Linked DNA regions of Homo sapiens: region 2 is linked to region 1. The links come from fine-mapping of genetic effects on gene expression. Tissue or cell type: whole blood. Region 1 holds a variant in brackets; the other region holds the start of a gene. All regions are shown on one strand. Distances are from middle to middle.

Evidence for each region. PIP is the estimated chance that this variant, and not a neighbour inherited with it, causes the effect.
Region 2: it holds the start of FHIP2A, and the variant in region 1 is fine-mapped to the expression of FHIP2A in whole blood (TOPMed, PIP above 0.99).

Annotation. Positions count from the first base shown.
Region 1 is chr10:114,872,889-114,880,995 of GRCh38, reverse strand. It overlaps a transcript of FHIP2A not described here. Among named protein-coding and RNA genes, the nearest start is that of FHIP2A, 55 kb to the right of the region's middle. RefSeq lists an enhancer at 1-212. The variant A/TCAA (reference allele first, on the strand shown) is at 4,003.
Region 2 is chr10:114,817,659-114,825,765 of GRCh38, reverse strand. FHIP2A (FHF complex subunit HOOK interacting protein 2A) reads right to left here and starts at 3,986. Exons shown (of 17, transcript NM_020940.4): 1 at 3,643-3,986. The coding sequence starts at 3,687. It overlaps LOC124902508 (translation initiation factor IF-2-like), which reads left to right and starts at 2,818. Exons shown (of 2, transcript XM_047426127.1): 1 at 2,818-4,493. The coding sequence starts at 3,665. The coding sequence ends at 4,270. RefSeq lists silencers at 3,288-3,507, 3,568-3,917, 3,928-4,237 and an enhancer at 3,082-3,582.

The DNA of each region.
Region 1 (8,107 bases):
AAGTTACCATTGGCCTCTGTAAAATGGAATTTCCATATAATAATTGAGATGGCCTTGTAAGGAGGGAAGGTCCCTGTTGCTGCTTCTACAAGGAAGTTGGACTGATAGGGAAATGTGGAAACAAAGGAAGCTTTTGTCTTATCTCTGAAGCGAAGCCTTGTATGGTGGTTTCCAAATGCCTGTCTCATGCCCTACAGCATCAGAATCACTCGGAGTGCTTCCTTAAAATACAGATATCTACACCCATGCAACACATTGAATTCCTAGGAAGGGGCCCAGGAATCTGTGTGTGTGTGTGTGTGTGTGTGTGTGTGTTGACATGGAGTCTCACTCTGTTGCCCAGGCTGGAGTGCAGTGGCGTGATCTCGGCTCACTGCAACCTCCATCTGCCAGGTTCAAGTGATTCTCCTGCCTCAGCCACCAGAGTAGCTGGGATTACAGGCGTGCACCATCACACCTGGCTATTTTTTTGTATCTTACTAGAGACAGGGTTTCACCATATTGGCCAGGCTGGTCTCCAACTCCTGGCCTCATGCGATCTGCCTGCCTTGGCCTCCCAAAGTGCTGGGATTACAGGCATGAGCCCCTGCACCCAGCCTGAAGGGTTTTTAACAGTTTTATTAAGATGTAATTCACATACTATACAATTCACCCATTTAAAGTGTATGGTTCAATGGCTTTTAATATATTCACGGAGCTGTGCTTCCATCTCTATAATTTCAGAACATTTTCATTATCGCCAAAAGAAGCACTGCTCTCCTTAGCCATCACCCCAATCCTCCCGCCTCCAACCCCCAGCCTTAGGCAAGCCCAAGTTTACTTCCTGTCTGTATAGATTTGTCTGTTCTGGGCATTTCATGTAAATTGAATCATGCACTGTGTGATCGTATAGTGAAGTGTGTGAGTTTGGAGCAAGAGCTAATTGGTTACAGGCAACAGAGGAAAGGCTTAGAGCACCACTATTGTCTTCCCCACTGAATGCCGGATGTCACCCCTCTAAATAAGTGTGGAATACATATGTAAAGATATTGGCTTATAGCTGGGCATGATGGTGTGCACCTGCAGTCCCAGCTATTTGGGAGGCTGAAGTGGGAAAATCCCTTGAGCCTCGGAGCTCAAGTCAGCCTGGGCACACCGCGAGAGCCTCCTGTGTCTAAAAAGTAAAAAAGAATATTGGCTCGAAGGAAGCTAGTCAGTCTTCCTGTAGGTCCAGCCTTGTATTACGCCAGGCAATCAGCAGGGGTCACTGCACTCCAGCCTGGGTGACAGAGCGAGACCCTGTCTGAAAAACAAAACAAACAAACAAAAGTAAACCCGTCCCTCTGCAAAACCAAAGCCCCCCAGTTGACGATGCCCACCGCTTCTTATGAGGCATTTGAGCAATCGTCTGTTATTGCAAGAAAGGGGAATGCCACTTCCGGGAGATTCAACAGACAGAAATTTGGGAACTCTATAAAATGCTCTATTTCATAGACATTTTTTTCCTGCATCATTACCTTTCTTGAAAAGTATTAGTGCTCAGAGTATGTGTGTATTTCAGTATTCATATGGATTTATTCATCTGGCTGTGGTATAATTGCATTTTTTAGATGAGATCTGTTTCCTTCTCTAACTTAATTTTGGAGCTTACCTAAGCCATGTCCCAAGGGAGGGAGGTAAAATAGGGATTAAAGGATTTGCAGGATTTTTGTTTGTTTGTTTGTTTTGAGACACTGTAAGATGATGCCCAATTTTCTGAGAGTCTGTTCCTCCATTAAGATCAGATCACAATGCAGTCTTGGGAGATTGCCCAGTGCTGTGGAAATAGTGAGGGCTTTGGCTGCTTGAGTTCAAATTCTGGTTACCTTTAACAAATGTGACTTTACTTCTCTCAGCCTCAGTTTTCTTATCTATAAATATGGAATATTGGTAGCTTGCTTATAGAATGATTCTGAAGAGTAAATTAAATAATAAGCCTGGCACATAATAATAGCTGTTCTGTAAAAATGTAGCAAATATTACTATTATTTAACTTCTCATTTCATATATGTTATGTTTCCTCATTTGGATTCTTAGCTCCTTTGAGTATTGTCCCTGATCCCCACATAGCTCGTAACATAGTGTGTCCTATGCAAAAGCCAAGAAAGAGTTAGGAAAGAACAGATTGTAGAGGACACCTATGAGCCACCTGCCCAGGCTTCTTTTCTTTCTTTCTTTCTTTCTTTTTTTTTTTTTTTTTTTGAGGCGAAGTCTCTGTCACCCAGGCTGGAGTGCAGTGGCACAATCTCAGCTCACTGCAACCTCTGCCTCCCAGGTTCAAGCACTTCTGTCTGCCTCAGCCTCCCAAGTAGCTGGGATTACAGGCACCTGCCATTATGGCCGGCTAATTTTTGTATTTTTAGTAGAGACGGGGTTTCGCCATGTTGGCCAGGCTGGTCTTGAACTCCTGACCTCAGGTGATCCACCCACCTCGGCCTCCCAAAGTGCTGGGATTACAGGAGTGAGCCACTGCGCCCAGCCAAGGCTTCTCTTTTCTGGACTTATCTATCCTGATTCCCATTGTCCATCCACAAAGATATGAAAATGGGCTCCAGCAGCTTCTATGAGTGACTTTGCCCCCACTCCTCTTATCCTCAGCCTCAGTTGGTTGGACTAGGTGAGGACACCCAACTTAAGCTTGGCCAGGGAGTTCAGTGAGTTCTTAGCCAGTGGGCGTGAAACTGATCCTCCGTGTTCCACTGTAGTTGTGATTTGAAGTATGTTCACAAAATGTGATTCTAGGCAGCCATTCATAATGCTTCTAAAATTTTTTCTAAGCCCTAAGAAAATGGTCATCTTATAATGTTAAGGTAAAAAGGATAAGACAAAATTATGTAGACCTCACAGATTAGAAAATATATATGCATGAAGTACTGGAAAGAAAATACATAAAAATGTGAATAGAAATAGAGGGATTCTAGATAATTTTCTTTTAGTTTTTAATACTGACTGTTAAAGAGAAGTCTATATATTGGGGGGAAGGTGGGAGTAGGGGGAAGGAGCCAATGTAGATTTTCTTCTCTCTTCCCTTTAAAAAATTTTTGCTTCTCTGGTCTCAGTTTTCTCAGAATCCTAGCTATCCTTGATATCTGATAAAAATAATTCACACACGGGTGTTAACAACTTGCTAGCTCTCCAAGGGTGTTATTATTTGAAAATGGGCTTCCAGACGCAAGATGACTTCATGCAGAAATTCTCAACCATTGATCCTTTGCAGAACTAGGCTAAGCAGTTCTACCAGTTTGCAGGAGAAAACATGATAGAATTGTCTAAAATTAAAATTTTCTCCCATAAATTTTCCCTTGGTGCCTGCCACCAATGTCTCAATTAGAATTTTGTAGTCTGAACAATAGAATCACTGGGGAGCTTTAAAAATATACAAATTCCCCTGCTCCATCTTCCAGATTCCAGATTTAACTGGCCTTTTGTGGGGCCCGAACCGCTATGGTTTTTAATCCTTTGTAGGTGATTCGATCCTTCAGCCAGGATTGAGACTTATATATAATTATAATTATATAATTATACTGACAGTATAATTGATTGAATGCAAAATTCTATATTGAGTAATTTTGTTGTCTCCAGCTTAATAGCGTATCCATATTTTGCGGGATTTCTGAAGGAGCTGCATGGGTTCCAGTTGCCCTACTAATTGAATGAATTTGGAAACTCGTGCTTGACCTGAACCCTCGGGCGGCGCCGTTCCCAGTGGGGAAAGAGACTGTTTGGAGACATCGCCCTCCAGTGACAGCACTCGGGAACTGTTGAGAGGCCTGGGTACACCTTTGCTTCCCATTGATTGTTCCTCTAAGAACAGGGGTGCTCTGAGCCCGTTCCAGCCTGTGAAAGCTCCCTTGAGTTCGTTGTACGTTTGTCCTTGCCCGGATGTGTCGGCAACACGCTTGGAGGCATAAACAGAACAAAACTTCAGACGTGTTCTTAACTGTCAGGAGTAACAGTTGCAGATAAAAGCTGCAGAATTGCTCA[A/TCAA]TACTGGGAAGGCTGAGCACAACTAGAATTATTCCGGTAACTTAACAGAAAAAATAAATAAACATGTCAATAGTTACAGGGTTTAGGAGGGAGGGAGAGTGTAAATTCATAGCAAAACATTTGGAACATTCCGTTTAGCCCCTTCCCTTGTGCGGGGGCGGAAGTCTGAGGCGAGTGGGGTGCACTGTGGGGAGGGGCAGCAGAGAAGAAGTCTCACCAGAGTAGACAGGACCAGGGGGCCGTGCTGAGCCCTGGCCCCAGGAGCTGGCAGGTGAGAAGAGACTCATCTCTGGAAATAATGCTTGAGAGTCCATCTGAGCCCCCTGGGAAGCTTGTCCAGAAAGCTCCCGGCAGGTCCCATTCCTATCAATTGTGGTTCAAGAGGCCTAGGAACCCGAGAGGGTTCTGAGAAGCAGTGGCAGGGCCTGCCGTGCATCCAGTACCTACTTGGTAGCAGGTGTGGAAGGAGGCCTGTGCCCTCGTTCAGTCCTTACAACAACCCTCTGTGGTAGTTGGTACCATCCCCATTTTACAGATAAGGAAACTGAGGCTCGGGGAGGTGATGTGGGGTGCCTAAAGCACCAGAGCTGAGCAGTGATGGAGTCTGGACTGCAGTACCCTGTTGCGGGCGATGAGGGGGAGCTGTCACAGGAACAAGCCAAATCCTGCATTAGGAGGCTCAGTGCCAAAGGTCGGAGCAGGACCAGAGATGACGTGGACCTGCATGCCTGGTCCACAGCGCTCCTTGGGGACCTTCTGTTCTCCCTGAGGAAAGGGTTGGAGTCAGGTGGGAACGTAGGAAGGAAGAGAAGGTAGAGAGGGGAGAGGAGGCATGACCAGCCACCAGACAGGGGGGAGTCAGAGCCACCAAGGCAAAGCGCTGGTGAGCGGGAGGGTGGGGGCCCCGGGTCTCTTCTGCTTCCTCCTCAGTCTTTCCCCTCAGGCTCCTTTCTTCCTTCTAGAGCTTTTCTTTCTTTTTCTTTCTTTCTCTTTCTTTTTCTTTCTTTCTTTCTCTCTTACCTTCCTACCTTCTTTCCTTTCTTTCTGTTCTTTTTCTTTCTCTTTCTTTCTTTCTTTCTTTCTCTTTCTTTATTTCTTTCTCTCTCTTTCTTTTCTTTCTTTCTCTTTCTTTCTTTCTTTTTCTTTCTTTCTTTCTCTCTTACCTTCCTACCTTCTTTCCTTTCTTTCTGTTCTTTTTCTTTCTATTTCTTTCTCTCTCTCTTTTCTCTTTCTTTCTTTCTCTTTCTTTCTTTCTTTCTCTCTCTTTCTTTCTTTCTCTCTCTTTCTTTCTTTTTTTCTTTCGACAGAGTCTCGCTCAATTGCCAGGCTTGAGTGCAATGGCGCAATCTTGGCTCACTGAAACCTCCGCTCCTGGGTTCACACCATCCTCCTGTCTCAGCCTCCTGAGTAGCTGGGAATACAGGCACCCGCCATCATGCCCAGCTATCTTTTGTATTTTTTTTTAGAGACAGGGTTTCACCATGTTGGCTAGGCTGATCTTGAACTCCTGACCTCAGGTGATCCACCCTTCCCCAGCCTGCCAAAGTGCTGGGATTACAGGCATGAGCCACTGCGCCCGGTCCCATGTTCCTTTCTTACTTCTCCACCATCCTTGCTTCTTCTTTCTTCACTTCCCCTTTCTTAGAAAAGGGGTTTTCTCCTCCCTCACAGATCCAAGGCATGCCCTCACTCCTCACAGGATGGCAAGGAGAAACGATCAATCGCTTAAGTAATAAAAAACATCCAAATCAGACCCGTCTGCAGTCAGAATCCACAGCAGTCCTTCCGCAGCACAGCAGTCCTTCTGCAGCACAGCACTGCCTCCGCCGGCCGCCTTCCTTCCCTCGGAACTGAGCCCATCCAGGGCTGCAGAGCGGCCTGCAGTCCCTGGTGGCAACAGCACTTAGCGGCGCCTCATGTTTAATGCAAGCAAGCTTCGGAAACAGGAAAGCTTTCAAGATACAGCTGAAGATGCACGAGCGCTGCCCTTTACAGAGCAAACACGAATGTACAAAACCAACGTGGGTTTTCCTGTGTTACAATAATTGTGTTCTCATCTGTACAGATTTAAGCTAACCGCTTCTGTCAGAAGAAAGGAGAAATCTATATCCAAGGGCCTCTGTGGCCTAGAGAGGCCTGAGTCACCTCTGCTTTTTGAGTCTCCTAGTAATTTTAAAATGAAAAAATTCCGGCCGGGCGCGATGGCTCATGCCTGTAATCCCAGAACTTTGGGAGGCAGAGGCGGGCGGATCTCCTGAGGTCAGGAGTTCGAGACCAGCCTGGCTAACATGGTGAAACCCCATTTCTACTAAAAACACAAAAAATTAGCGGGGCATGGTGGCACGCGCCTGTAATCCCAGCTGCTCAGGAGGCAGAGACAGAAGAATCGCTTGAACCCGGGAGGCGGAGGTTGCACTGAGCCAAGATTGTGCCACTGCACTCCAGCTTGGGCAACAACAGCGAAACTCCATCTCCAAAAAGAAAAACGAAAAAATACTAAAATAGGTTATACAATTTGTAGTTCATTTGTAAATGCTCATCATTAGCAAGTTAATATTTTTAGCACAAAAGAGATAATGCAATATAATTGTGCTAGTTACTAGCTAATTACAGGATTTGTAAAAAGTAATCATTCCTAGTGTGCTATAAGTAATGGGGCACAGGTGTATAGCTGTATTTTGAATAACTTCTTTAACCTGTTAGGATGTGATTCCTTTGGGAAAAAAAATTAAAGATCTAAAGTAGAAATCTTTTGTGTGGCTGTGTTAAAGTGTATGATATTGATGACTATGAAAGTTTCCCTTCTGCTAACATAGACACTCTTGTCTCCAAACAAGTTCAGCTGTGCTTCCCACTCAGTCACTCATTCTGGATGGTTTTGTTAGCATATCCATGTCCTCTACCCTGTCTTCAGAGTGCTTAGGTTGAAAGGCTTTATAAATACCACGTGTCTAGTCCAATACCCTTTCCTCGGCTATCTGGACCCAAAGCACCATGCCAAGTCAATGCAGTGCTACAGAACTTAGGGTTGTTTTTTTTTTTCCCCCTCCTGAATATTCCTAAATAACTCAGTGTTTTAAAAGACTCTGATGTATCTTGGAGAAATGGCTGATCCTAGGACTGGGGCAGGAAACATATGAGATGAGCTGGGAGTATTTTGTAATCTCCAAAAGTAAGGAAGTACTAAAAAACAAAAAGAAACAAACAAAACACCCATATATTGATGGGGGTATGTTAAAGAGACACAGGAACCAACTGAAACTGTTCCCAAAGGCCAAAGCTGGAACAATTTGAGCAACAAAACCAATGAAATAGTATTAGATTATAACCCAAAGTATAAGATAAATATCCATGAGTTTGTATTGATATAAATGATTGGATAAATAAAGGGTTTGGGACACAAATCTTCCTTGCAGAATAATTCCAAACAGTTTTTTGCAGATACTCTACCCTCAAGAAGATACAGTATTAACTCTACACTTCTGAAGTGTGAGCTATCTACGGTGACTTTGCTTCCCGAGAATACAGTATGGAAATGGGAGGGAAAGAATAACTTTACAGTGGAGAAACTTGACAAATACTATTTCAGCCAGGGGATCAAGCCCAACATCATGCTGACAGTGTGTACTCTTGATAAGATATGACTAAAATCACACTTTATCTCTGTATTCCTCCTCTGTAACATCCACAATCCCAGTCTAATCATGAGGAAAACATCAGACTAATTCCAATAGAGGGCATCCTACAAAATACCCAACCAATACTCCTCAAAACTGCCAAAATCAACAAAAATATATGGAAACTCTTAAGAACAGCTGCAGACACTGCAGAAAGCCTAATAGCAACCACTCCTCAGAGGTCTGAACACCAGCCCTGCAGGGCCCATCCCCTAACCTTCTAGGTTCTGATCATCTCAACTCCTTTCCTTTGAATCCTCCAGCTTTAGAGGTGGTGCTGCTTCCTGCTATTTTTAGCCCTGTATTACAGTAATGTTCCTCCTTTGCTATTCCACCCCCCAACACCCAATTCCCTGTATAAATTTCCTCTGTTGAAGTACCTTGTGTGGTTTCTGTTTTCCAAACTGAGCTGTGCCTGTTACAGTGCT
Region 2 (8,107 bases), 55 kb after region 1:
AAAGTGTTTTATCTATCTTTTGAAGAAGTTGTGTTAAAACAATCCAATCTAACCCCGGAACTAACTACAAGAAAGGCCTGAATTCAGACTTGTGACATGCGGCAACTGGCTAACAGATTCATTTCATAAGACTCTTACTGGCCAATCATTTCTGTACTGAGAGAAGACTGTCATTTCTAAAAAGGGAGGCAGGAGTTACATTACAGTTCTTGTTTTTAATCAAGAAGGTGTGAACTTATCTTCCATACTCAAAATGCAGTCTATCAGCTTAACAACACATTTTCAAATATTAATTTTGGAAAATATCTTAGTCATATTTTTCACGTTATAAGTAGTTGCCAGGGAGTGAGGAGAAACCATTAATTAAACAGTAAGATAAACTCTATGTTTAAGCCTCACTTAAATGAATACATCCAGTCAACACTAAAAAAACTATTTGGGCCAGGTATGATGGCTCCATCCCTATAATCCTGGCACTTTAGGAGATGGAGGTGGGAGGCTCACTCAAGCCCAAAAATGTGAGACCAACCTGGGCACAGTGTCTACATTGTGAGGCCCAGTGTCTACAAAAAATTTTTTTAAAAATTGAGTGTGGTGGTGCTGGCCTATAGTCTCAGCTACTCAGGAGGCTGAGGCAGGAGAATCGTTTGAGCCCTGGAGGTTGAGGCTGCAGTGAGCCATGATCATGTCACTGCACTCTAGCCTGGGTGACAGAGACCCTGTCTCGAAAAATAAGTAAATAGTTAATTAAAAATTAAAAACCCATTTGAAGGCTTATCAATTAAATAAGGAAACCTGGAAAGTAATCATACCAAAATGGTTGGAAAAGCATTACTCCACAGACTGATCCAACAAAATAATGAAAAAAGCTCATGTCAGCATCCAGGTATTTTCTGTCTCTGTATAATCCTGATAACTATGTTAATTGGAATACTGCATCAGGAAATGCTAATTGGACGTACACATGAACAGGAACACACAGAAGAGCTAATGAAATGAACTGAGGAATGGTAAGATTGGTTCATAGAGGAAAATATCAAGCAAATTAATAAACAGAACTGAATAACTGGAAACTAACCTTGGGCTACGAAAAAACTATCCAAATACACAAGGATGGCTTATTCATCATTGCACATGAGTTCATTCCCAAGAGAGAATGTTAAAAGGGGGGAAAAAAAGGTTAGTATAGAACATCAAACATTTTTCATGAGATTTAACCTCCTATCAAGATAAGATGGGTGGTGCCACAAATGAAAACATTAGGTCTAAGCAAATGAAAACATTACACTTCTAAATGCAATGCATTAATTTCAGGACTAGGTGAACACAAGCCACTCTAACTTTTTCTCACTAACCTCAGCAAAGTAGGCTAAGGATATTACAGAGCAGGAGCCAGATAATTTGGCAGATGCTAATATATACAATTATAAAAAGATAACGAGGACAAGAAAACACAGGCCTCCGGATAAAAATGAGCCTTTACTAGGAGAGCAGGAAAGCCGTCTTTCTTTTTCTAAGTACTTATTTCTGTAAATACTAGCCTGATGGGTAAAGGATATAAATATAGTTGGTATCTGTAGGGGACTAGTTCCAGGACATCTCTTCCTACCCCTAAGATCTGAGGATGTTCAAGTCCCTGTTATAAAATGGCATATTTTCATATAACCTATGCATACCTGTATTCTTTAAATCATCTCTAGATTGCTTCTAATACCTAATACAATGCCTACACATCACTTCATTCACATGGATTCAAGGCAGTACTTGAATATGGCAAATTCAAGTTTTGCTTTTTGGAACTCTGCAGAATTTTTTTCCCCCTCAAATATTTTTTTACTTGAGTTTGGTTAAATCACAGGTGCAGAGCCTACGGATAAGACAGCTGACTGCAATATAGTAAATTTTGATTACCAAGTATCTCATTAAGTGTTCCCAAGTATTTCATATATTCAAGGTTAAAATGATTCGGGCCGGGTGTGGTGGCTCACACCTGTAATCCCAGCACTTTGGGAGGCCAAGGCGGGCGATCACTTGAGGTCAGGAGTTCGAGAGCAGCCTGGCTAACATGGTGAAACCCCATCTCTACTAAAAAAAAAAAAAAAAATTAGCCGTGTGTGGTGGCGGGTGCCTGTAATCCCAGCTACTAGGGAGGCTGAGGCAGGAGAATCGCTTGAATCCGGGAGGCGGAGGTTGCAGTGACCTGAGATCACACCCCTGCACTCCAACCTGGGTGACAGAATGAGATTCGGTCTCAAAAAATAAATAAATAAATAAATAAATAAAATTAAATGATTCTTGGTATTTTTAAAGAAAACAAAATTTAAATGTTTTAATAAACTGCAGTTAAATTCTTTCAACAAAAGTAGAGTGTGTATAAGCAAGTAAAAACTAAAAGTTGTCTTGAAGTCTACCACTGTCATTTCCCTCCGTGTAATACTGCTCTACATTTATGAAACCCTGTTTTTCCTGTTTGATACATTTTCCCAAGAGCTTGCCCTAGAGCTAAATTTTTTAACGCTTCTCATGTATCACTTAAATAACAATTGTACTAAAGTTTGTTTTTATTACTGAAGGCAAAAACTCCATTTTTGCCTGCCCATAAAAAATCATTGTTGTATCTGACATTTTTAAAGTGTACATTTTAAAGTGTCCTATCACATAATATGAACATAGGAAGAGAATGTCATGTTAAAAATTAGCAAAGTAATTGTTTCTGCACAGAATGCATTTTTCAATTTGGGCAGTTCTCCCAGAATAAAGTAAACAAGTGAAGCAACTAGCATTCTTACTAGAACAGTGACAAGGCATTTTCTTTTTAGTTTCTTTTCACTTATTAGTCTACTAGGATACTTGAATACTGTCTCTATGCTGGTGTCTAAAACCCTCAAAGGAGAGTACAATTGCAGGATAAACGAAGAGTGTCCAGGAAGAGAACTAGACAAGAAAGGAAACAGATGGTCTCTGGGCTCGGTGAGCTTGGAAGCTGTCGAAAGCAAACTCGACTGGACCCTCCAAACTCCTATTTCAGATCAATACATAAGGTTCAGCTGAGTTCGGCCTCCAGGCCCAAGAAAGCAAAAGCCAGCAACCCGGGGGCTGGTCGGCGGCTCCCTCGCCAGGGACGCCCCACAGCGAGACCATGCCTCTCCCACCTCTACCCCCGAAAACCAAAACAAAACAGAACCAAGCCCAAGCGGTGCTTGCTCGTTTCTTTTGTCTTGCTCAACGCTGACCACTTTTTTTCCGGAGAAGGTTAACGTTAAGGGAGCCCGGGGGAGCTCTCTGCGACCCCGCCAGGTGCTCCCCGAACCCCCGGCCCCATCAGAGGAATGAGGCGACCACCGAGCGGCGTTGGGCGGCCAGGTCCTCCCCGGCACCCCCGCCCCGGCTCCTGGAGGAGGGCAGGGACTGCCGGCCTGGGGCAGCCAGGGACCGACGGGACCCCCGCAGAGCCAGGCCCGAGGCCCCGGGCGCCCCCACGACCCGGCGGCCGCCCAGGGCGCCCGCCTGGGGCCTCACCCCAACCGGGGACAGGGCCGCCGAGGGCCGGGCCAAGGCCGCCCGGCTTGTCCCCGAGGCCGCCGGGGAGCGTAGGCCGCCGCCATCCCCGGCCTGCCGTGCGCCCGCAGCCCGCGGCCTTACCGCCTCCACGGCGTGCTGCAGGATGGAGGTGAACTTGGAGAACATCCTGTCCCGGGACTGCAGCAGCCTCTCCCGGGACGACCTGGAGAGCTCCTCGATCCGCCGCCGCCGCCCCTGCTGCGGCTGCCGGGGCCGCTCCAGAGTGAAGGCCGGTGCGGGGCGGGGAGGACGAGCTGAGGATCGAGGCAGGGCCTGGCCCGGCCGCTTCAGGTGTGCGCGGGCGGCTCGGCGGCTCCGGAGGGCGCCGGGACGCGGCGGGCGGCGAGGAGGGCGTTCGGCGAGGACTCGGGGCCCGGAGAAGCTCCGGCGGCGGCACCGGTTGGGACACGGTGGCAGCCCGGCTCGGGTTCCTTCCCCCCGCTCTGCCCGCCGCGGCCTGCAGGGGGCGCCGCCGCAGCCCGGGGAGGCCCGGCCAGGCCTGCCCTGCGGCGGGGCCGCTAGGCGCCGCGGGGGCGGGGGGCGCGCTGAGGCCTCGGCCTCGCGCGGGGCTGGAGGCGGCCTGTGGGCAGCCACCGCCCTCTCCCGGCTTTCTCAGGGCGCCTGGGACACCGGCTTTCTAACATTTTTACAGCTCAGCGATTCTCAAGAGTTTTGTTTCTCCAGTGGAAGTAACAGGCTGACTTTGTAGGGACACGCAGCCGTCCATATATGCGTATAGCATTCAGAGGTTCTTCCTGTAAGGACCGATTTGGAAGACTCGTTAAGAAAACAGTGTTCTTTAAGCAAACATTGGCAATGGATTTAAATGCTCAGATTTTGAAGAAATCAACGACTGCAGGTGAAATGGCTTTGCTAACTTTAAAATATATTATTATTCAACATTGAAACAGGAAATCCCACATGAGCACATGGTAAGACGGCTGGCTTAGTTTAAATAGCCCATTATAATATTTATATATAATATATAACATAATTTATTTGTGATATGGTTGATAGTGAGGTGTAGTGATTCAGAACAGCATTTTCTATTCAGTTATCAGATGATACCGGAAAACATTAGCGAGGGAAAGAATCTGAAAGGAGTCCAGTAAATGCCTAAGGCAGATAAATAGAGCTACAAGGTAAGCACTTGGGTGGAGGCTGCTTAAAATACTCCCTAACAGTGTATTAGTCAAGCCTTGAAGAAGCAGTTCAGGCTGGTAAAGTTTAGGTTGAGTTAATACAAATTATGAAAATATTTGTATCCTGAAGAAATTTGTTTTATGCTGGTATTGGCGTTTTACCAAAAGGTTCATTAAGTTCTTAAGATGAGGTGGGGAGTGAGTTTTGCACAACCAGTGCTGAAAATACGTATCTGGCCCAGGCGCGGTGGCTCACGCCTGTAATCTCAGCACTCTGGGAGGCAAAGGCGGGAGGATCACTTGAGGCCAGGAGTTCGAGACCAGCCTGGCCAACATGGTGAAACTCCGTCTCTATTAAAAATACAAAAAAAAAAAAAAAAAAAAAATTAGCCGAACGTGGTGGTGTAATGGGATTACATGCTTGTAATCCCAGCTACTTGGGAGGCTGAGGCAGGAGAATCCTTGAACTCGGGAGGCGGAAGTTGCAGTGAGCCAAGGTTGCGCCATTGCGCTCCAGCCTGGACAACAAGAGCAAAACTCCATCTCAAAAAAAAAAAAAAAAATACACACACACACACACACACACACACACACACACACACATACATGTATACACACACATACGTTTATACATACACAAACGTATATATACACATACGTATATATACATGTATACACACACACACGTATATATATCTGTAATTGATTCATGGAACAGAGAAAAGGTGGCTGTCATATGGAGTGGTGGTAACTGGCCAGGCTCTGGGGCTGGGTAGCCTAAGTCCCAGCTCTGCCACCCACAGTGGAAAGTTATTTAACTTCTTTGTGTTTTAATTTGCTTATATGTCAAAAGGGGAGAACAGTACCTACCTCTTGAGGTTGTTGTGGGAATTAATTAATATATGTAAAACACTTTAACAGTGCCCAGTCCCTAGTAAGAGATGCACAGACACTTATACTTGTTCTGAGTTGTGGTAGTGGTATTTAGCAAAATAATAGGGCCAGAAATCAGGAATTAAGGAGGAGATCTTAACTGGGCTTCTTTTCCCTCCTGTTTTTGTGGTTTATATCCCTGCGGTGCTCCTTGGCAGATAAATACGACCTTAATTTTCTACGTACTACCCCCAGAATGCTGGAGGCATCCTCTGTTGTTTTGTGCCCCTTACCAAATTCTGGCCGTGTCTGCTTCAACTGAGAGCATGTATGTATGCTTATTGTTATTATATTCATACACAGTTTAAGATGGTTAGTCATATTATTAACCATAATTAGTTTCATGATCTAATTATCATGCATTTATATGGCATTTTGTAGTTCCAAAATGCCTTACAACCACTAATTGTATGAGGAGGTCTTAGTTAGAGTTGTGTGTATTTGATGATGTCTATCTTTGTGTACTTATTATAAACACAATAAAATATATGTTTTGCTCTAGATTAATATCAATATTTAGGATGGTGATTCATCTACCTGCTGTCTAGGTTTCAAGACACACAAGTTGGACTAGAATTGTAACTGAGCAGATATTCCTATTTCTGATTGTCATCCTAGAATGCCTGCTGTGACTCTGACATCATCAATTAGCTCAATACATGGGCACAGTCGGACCTGCCCCAAAGCCTGTGATTTGAGAAAACACAAGAAAACCTTCCCCTAGCCTCCAAACCACTTAGGTGTGGGTACCTGAAATTTCTCAGTTAGAACTTAATGCCTTTATCCCTTTGGCTTAAGCCAAATAAGAAACTTAGTCCTTGTTAAAATGAAAATACTCTTGGGAGATGTAACACATCAAACTCTGTCATTCATTAGACTTCAGGGGGAATGAATTTGTTAAATCCTTTTCTAAAATGAAGTTTAATTAGTGAAGACACAGAAAAATCTAGAAAATTGGAACCCAGTTGGGATGGTGTTGAGAAAAGAGATAAAAATAAATCTTTTTTTAACTTTTTAATAATAGTCATTCTGACTGGTGTGAGATGATATCTCATTGTGGTTTTTATTTGCATTTCTCTAATCAGTGATATTGAGCTTTTTTTCATATGCTTGTTGGCCACATATATGTTTTCTTTTAAAAAATGTCTGTTCATGTCCTTTGTGCACTTTTTAATGGGGTTGTTTGTGTTTTTTTCTTATAAATGTGTTTAAATTCCTTATAGATCCTGGGATATTAGACCTTTGTTAGATGCATAGTTTGCAAATATTTTCTCCCATTCTGTAGGTTGTCTGTTTACTCTGTACAATAAACACCGATGACATGAGTTTTACCTATATAACAAACCTGCGCATGTCTCCCTGAACCTAAAATAAAAGTTTAAAAAAGAAAGAGAAATAGAGTTAGATGATACCTGCTTCCAAATTTTGGCAGACTTCTGGAATTTGTGAGTTGAACACATCAATTGTTAGCAACATTCCCTCCTCAAATCCCGCTAAAATGACAGTAAAGAGATTTTCCAAAGCATATGCCCAAAAGGATAAGTTAGGAGAGAACAGCAATAGCATTTTCAGAATTAGAAAGTAGCCATAAGATGGGTTAACTCTGATGTGGCCGACCTAAGAAAGCTGAATCCTAAGCCAACAATGAAGAAAGCCAGGAATCAAAAGTCATCCCTTGGTATCCTCCATGGAGGCTTTGTTCCAGGACCTCCCAAGGGTACCAAAGCCTGAGGATGCTCAAGTCCCTAATGTAAAATGGTGTGGTATTTGCATATAACCTAGGCATCAATCTCCAATATACTTTAAATTGTCTCTAGGTTTCTATAATACCTAATACAACAAATGCTATGTAAATAATTGATATACTTTATTGTTTAGGGAATAATGACAAGAAAAAACCTGTACATGTTCAGTACAGATACAATTTTTTCCCAAAATATTTTCAAAAGTCTTGAAAGAGGTTGCCTCTGTGGAACAGGAGATTGAGAGTTTGGGAGGAAGGACAGAAGCTTTCATAACACACCTTGTAAAACCTCTTAACTAAACCCTATGCTGGTGTAACACAAAGTTTGTTTGTCAAGGGGAGAAACTAGGAGCAGGAAACCATTTCTGATGCTTTTGTGTAAGTTTAGACAAGGATTATAAGGGTTCATCCCTGTAGAAATAGGAAGGAGATGGTAGTCTTGATAGATGAGATGTGATCAACCAAATTTTCCAAGTGATAAAAGGAGTGATTTGGTGAAGTGAAAGATGTTGCTGGAGTTTCTAGCTTGGAAGAAGTTAGTTGAAGATGCCATTAATTGGAATAGGGACCATGGAGATGTAGAAAGGTGATGAGATGGATTTTTTAATATGTTAGAATTTGATTATCTATACAATTACATCTATGTGGAGACATAGAGTATTGGGTGATGAGTTTGAATTAGGAAGTAAAGAGAGAGATCTGGGCTGATAATAAAGATTGGAGGATC